2 separate regions of the Homo sapiens genome follow, and region 1 is linked to region 2. The links come from fine-mapping of genetic effects on gene expression. Tissue or cell type: macrophages. Region 2 holds a variant in brackets; the other region holds the start of a gene. All regions are shown on one strand. Distances are from middle to middle.

Region 1 (2,925 bases), 800 kb after region 2:
CCTCAAAGGATTACTTGATAAATTCCAAAGAATCAATGTCATACAGATCATGTTCTCAGACCAGAATGCCAAAAAATTAGAAATGAATAACAGAGGGATAGTTTATACAAACATATTACTGGAAACTAAATAATATATTTTAAAAGGTAAAAAAAAAAAAAAAGTATAGCAAATTGCTAGTTGCTTAGAGTATCAATGAAATGGCAATGTATCAAAATGTGTAGGACTTACAGCAGTAGATAGAAATTATAACTTCAAACACAAGTAAAACTGTAAATTCAAGAAGTTGGAATAAGATCAACAGAGCCAAGAAACAAGAAGGAAAAATAAGTAAAGAAAGGCAAAAATCAATAAAATGGAGAAGGAAAAAACAGAAAGAAATGACCAAATCAAAAGCTAATTATTTGAAAAGATTAGTGAAATAAAATTCTGGCAAGACTGATCGAGAAAAAGAGTGAGAAAGGCCAGGAACGGTGGCTCACGCCTGTAATCCCAGCACTTTGGGAGGCTGAGGCGGGCGGATCACAAGGTCGGGAGTTCAAGACCAGCCTGGCCAATATGGTGAAACCCCATTTCTACTAAAAATACAAAAATTAGCTGGGCGTGGTTGTGCGCACCTGTAATCCCAGCTACTCAGGAGGCTGAGCCAGGAGAATCGCTTGAACCTGGGAGGCGGAGGTTGCAGTGAGCCGAGATCACACTATTGCACTCCAGCCTGGAGCAATAGAGTGAGACTCCGTCTCAAAAAAAAAAAAAAGAAAAAAGAAAAAAAGAAAAAGAGTGAGAAAATGAAATTGCAATAGATAAAACCTACAATGAAAAAGGGGGAAAAACAATTACAGGCACAACAAAGATGAAAGAATAATGTAATTGCAGTAACCCTTCTGAAGTAACGTTGTCAAAATATCAAACCTAAACCTGATCATGGATTTGAGATGGGATAGTTCCTTTGACCCCCTTCATGGGCAGGAACTGGAGTGGCTCGTTTCACTCAGCCCGTCACTGGCCACTCCTCGCATGGGGGAGCGTAAGAGCAAGCGGGTGCAGGAACCCAAGCAAACGAACCCCAGAACCCGCCGGTCGCTCCTCTCTGGAGGGAGCAGGCTCTATGCATGCTACACAGCAGTGTCCATGCATGTTTCAACCAGCGCTCTTTCAGCTCTGCCGTCCAGGTACGGCCAAGTGCCAACCAGCTCAGTGGAGAGTCAGGGTGGTAGCCCCTGCCCTCTTGGCACCTGAGTTCTCGTTTGGCGTCCAGGAAGAATCAGCTCACACGAACCGTTTGAAAGGTGATGAATGCGGAAGACTTCATTGAGCGGTGGGTGGCTCTCAGCGGAAAGGGAGGCTGGAAAGCAGATGGGAACGTGAGCTTTCTCTGAAGCCCGGCAGTCTCCGGCCAGGTCCCTCTCTGAAGCCGCACCGTCTGAAGTTAGCCGCATCTATCCATTGTCTCTGACACTCAGCTGCGTGTATCCTCGCCGCTCAGCCGCTTCTATTGCGCTGCCAGCTGAAGTCTTTTATGGGCACAGGATAGGGGCGGGGCAGGCCAAAAAGGCAACATTTGCTTGGAAAACCAGGATCACCTGTTTTCACTTAGGGCGGTGGTTCCTGGCTTAGGGGTGGGGTTTAGCTGGGAGCCCAGCCCTTCTGTATCAGATTGAGATTTAACTACCAATTTACAGGAATACAGAGGACAAGGGAACGTGTCAAACTAGAGATGCAATCATAGGAAACTCTGGGAGGAAAACAGAAAGCTGAAAAGAAACAGAGGTTATGAGAAATTAAAAGGCAGGTCTGCCAAGTGCAATGTGTAAACTTTGGATTCTGATTCAAATGACAAAGTTATCTCCCCCGCCAAAAAAAAAAAAAAAGACATTTGTGAGAAAATTGGAAGTTTAAACACTAATGGGGAGTTTCTTGATGTTGATAAATTATTATCTGGGGAGGAGGTAATGACACTGTGAACAGGTTGAAAAAGAGTCTTTGTCTTTTGAAGATTTTTACCGGAGCATTTGCAGGTGTCATTATACAATGTCAGAGATTTACTTCAAAGAATTGTGAGGGGATGTGGGCGGGGCTCTAGATGAAACAACATTGGCCATGAATTGATAACTGCTGAAGCACCAGAGGTTTATCAATCCACTTTTGAATGTATTCGAAATTTTCTAAAAAAAAAAAAAGTTTTTAGAGTATTATGAACAACTGTATCCAAATAATGTGAAACTTTAGATATTATAGACAACTTTGTGGGGAAATACTAAATGCCAAGATATAGTATACTTGAATAGACTAACAAGCATTAAAGAAATTGAAACGCTAATCATAGCTCCTCTCCCTAAAGCCCAGATAGCTTTACAAATATGCTCTACCTGTCTTCAAGAGACAGATTTTTTTATCTCACAAATTGTTGCAGCAAGTGAAAAAGAGAAAATTGTCCAGCCTTTTTTATGAAGCTAATGTAATCTTGATTCAAAACTAGATTGGGCCAATACAAAAAAAAAAAAAAATTACATGCTCATTGTATTTCTGAATAAGTGATATGGTTTGGCTGTGTCCCCACCCAAATCTCAAATTGAATTGTATCTCCCAGAATTCCCACGTGTTGTGGGAGGGACCCAGGGAGAGGCAATTAAATCATGGGGGTTGGTCTTTCCTGTGCTATTCTCATGATAGTGAATAAGTCTCACGAGATCTGATGGGCTTATCAGAGGTTTCTGCTTTTGCTTCTTCCTCTTTTTTTTTTTTTTTTTTTTTAGACAGAGTCTTGCTTTGTCACCCAGGCTGGAGTGCAGTCGCTCAATCTTGGCTCACTGCAACCTCCGCCTCCCAGGTTCAAGCAATTCTCCTGCCTCAGCCTCCTGAGTAACTAGGATTACAAGCACCCGCCATCACATCTGGCTAATTTTTGTATTTTTAGTAGAGACA
Region 2 (2,925 bases):
GATTAAATTTGGGGTGCTCTTACCTTAAAACTCTGTTCTGTTTTGTACTTTGGATCTTTTACTCATGAACGATTGGTAACATCTTGCATTATTTGGAAGGTATTCATTAGCTGAGTTTGCAGATCTTGCAAATGTTGGAGCATTTTATTGTACAATACCAAAAAAATCATAGTATTACCACTGATTAATCAGTCTGTAAGTACTGGAAAGCTGTTAGGTTCACAGTAGAGAATATAAGTTTTCCAAAATCTCAATTTTCACTTGAAATCTCTCATTTTATTGATAGGCACAACCGGGCTCATGTTTTGAGAAAATGTTTGTCAGATAGCCATGTCTGAATAATCGGTTTGTTAGTCATTCTTTCAAGTAAAATGGTGATGCTTCTTAAAAACAACGTCTAGTTCAGCTTGCAACTCAGTCACACAAATGCTTTTCCTTAAGGCAGCCATTGCATTTCAAGATGCAGCAAAAGTGCCTTATGAATACTTTGATTTTGTCACAAAGAATATTAAACATGTGTACTCAAGGGTCAAAATTTAATAAAATAACAATTTTTTAATTAGTTCATGAAGAGCAACTGGCTTTTTTCTGCCATGTGAGGTAAGGAAAAATACCATAACTGCTACTACAAATTGATTCATTCATGCCAAGAGCCTAGCAGTTTTACCCATCACTGCCTTTACTTCATTATATAAATATCAACATGGTAAAAAGAACAAATAACATGTTATTATTGTGATGAAAGTAGTTTTAATTTCACAGACTCTCTGAAAGAGTCTCAAGGACCTCCAGGGATTGATAAACCATGCTTTAAGACCCACTGCTTTGGTGTTAATCCACTTTGGAAACAGGTATGGGTTGTCATAAATGACAATATCTAAGAAAGATGTGAGCTGCAGCTATATTTTTTTTAGTGTTTTAAATTTTGATTTTACTCCAGCCTTTTTTGAACTGTATGTAGGTCTTCTAACTAAGGTAGAAAATTAAAATTAATGAGTAGTATGTAATCTTATGTTTTAAGGTTACTCATAAAGATTGCAAATTTATTGTGGATTAAGAAATCCTTTCTTGTCAATAATGTCAAGAATTCCTTTATTTTGTTCATTCAATTTTCACAACACCCCTGTGGGTTTTATCTTGGTGTTATCTTTGTTTAACAGATTAATTGAATTTAACAGACTATTTACCTTCCCAAATCATGCATTGAAAAGATGGACCCATGGTTTAATATTGACCAAAGTGCTCGTTACAATATTTCTCGCCACCAGCCGTTGAAATATGGCATACTATAAAGAGAGCCTAAGTTCTGAAGTTGCCTGGGATTAGGTTGACAGCCCTGCTTCTCCACTGCCCGAGTTGGTGTTCTTTATCCTCTCAATCCTTAGTGAACTCATCAGAAATTGCATTTACTTTATAGAATTACAGGTATTAAATAAGTC[A/G]TGTAAAACAGGTTTCAGTGTGCCTAGTACATAGTATACATTAAATATTTTTCTTTTCTACTTATTCACAATCATTACTATTCTAAATATTACTTCATTTTTTGTCGCTTTTTTTTTCTCTAATGCCTCCTTCCCTTTTCTCATTGCATACTTTTGGAAATATATTATTAGATGCCTAGATAATACAAATAGGGTCTTTGTACACTTAGTAGATCATTCAGTTGCTTAAGAAAGAAAGTTGGAGGAAGATCAATATGTCTACTTTAATATATGGACTAGGATTAAAACACCGTATTATACATATGCCATGTGTTGTTCAGAATTTCAATTAATAATTCCATTATTTTGACTCTTTTTTGTTGTATTTTTAAAATGTCCTGTTAGAATCCAGAACCCTTGATGTGTCCACAGATGAAGAGGATAAAATACATCACTCCTCAGAAAGTAAGGATGATCAGGGTTTGTCTTCTGACAGTTCTAGCTCTCTTGGAGAAAAAGAACTTTCATCAACAGGTTAGTAATTTGTATGATTTTGGTTAAGAATTTTATTTTTAATATAGTGTTTTTGATATAGTTATTAATGACATAACAAACTCTAGTGACATGGGGCAAGTAGGTCATTAATGATGATTGTCAGAGTGCCAAAATTGCTCATTTTTATTACATTTTAACATGCACAGGTCAGACAGCTTATAAGTAGCAGGGCTAGGATTCAAACCCAGTTTGTTCTGGAGCCTGTATTCTTCTTAATCACTGTGCTATACTGGGTGATTGACATTGATACTTGAAGGATGGTAAGAATTTGTCAGGGAGGATGTTTCAGGTATAGGATGTAGCATATCTGAAACTCTAGGGAAGGTATGTAATATGTGCAGGAAGCTAAAAATAGCTCTGGCTGAAAGTATTTGGTTGCGAGTTTAAGGAAAAGAAAACAGGAAGGACAAGTTGGAGTCAGATTATACAGGGCTTAGGGAACCACTGAAAATTTTATACAGATGACATGAATGTTTTTGTGTCTTAGAAAGATCAGTCTAGTTCAGGGGTTGGCAAATCTGGCCCACCACCTGTTTTTGTAAACAAAGTTTTATTAAAACACAATCACAGTCTTTCAGTTACTTAATATTTGTGGGTGCTTTTGCACTGCAGCAGCAGAGTTGAGAAGTTGCCACAAAGACCCTATGGCCCGCAAAGTGAAAAATATTTATCTGGCGTCTTACAGAGGTTTATAACTTGTTTTGTGCCGTGGACTCCTTTTTCAGTCTAGTGAAGCCTAAGATCCCTTCTGAGAAAATAAAGTAAAATACATAGCTTTGTAGAGGAAACAAATTATATTGAAATAAAATTATTAAAATATATTTTATGACGCTTGTAATATAGTAATAAGTGCTTCTGTGCTTCTTTTTTTTTTTTTTTTTTTTTGAGATGGAGTCTCACTCTGTCGCCCAGGCTGGAGTGCAGTGGCGCAATCTGGGTTCACTGCAAGCTC

What was found. PIP is the estimated chance that this variant, and not a neighbour inherited with it, causes the effect.
Region 1: LINC01291 starts here. The variant in region 2 is the best candidate, but not a certain one, in a credible set for the expression of LINC01291 in macrophages (Nedelec 2016, PIP 0.68).

What each region holds. Positions count from the first base shown.
Region 1 is chr2:74,907,528-74,910,452 of GRCh38, reverse strand. LINC01291 (long intergenic non-protein coding RNA 1291) reads right to left here and starts at 1,492. Exons shown (of 5, transcript NR_189601.1): 1 at 1,280-1,492.
Region 2 is chr2:75,705,550-75,708,474 of GRCh38, reverse strand. It overlaps GCFC2 (GC-rich sequence DNA-binding factor 2), which reads left to right. Exons shown (of 17, transcript NM_003203.5): 2 at 1,824-1,952. Among named protein-coding and RNA genes, the nearest start is that of GCFC2, 3.9 kb to the left of the region's middle. The variant A/G (reference allele first, on the strand shown) is at 1,440.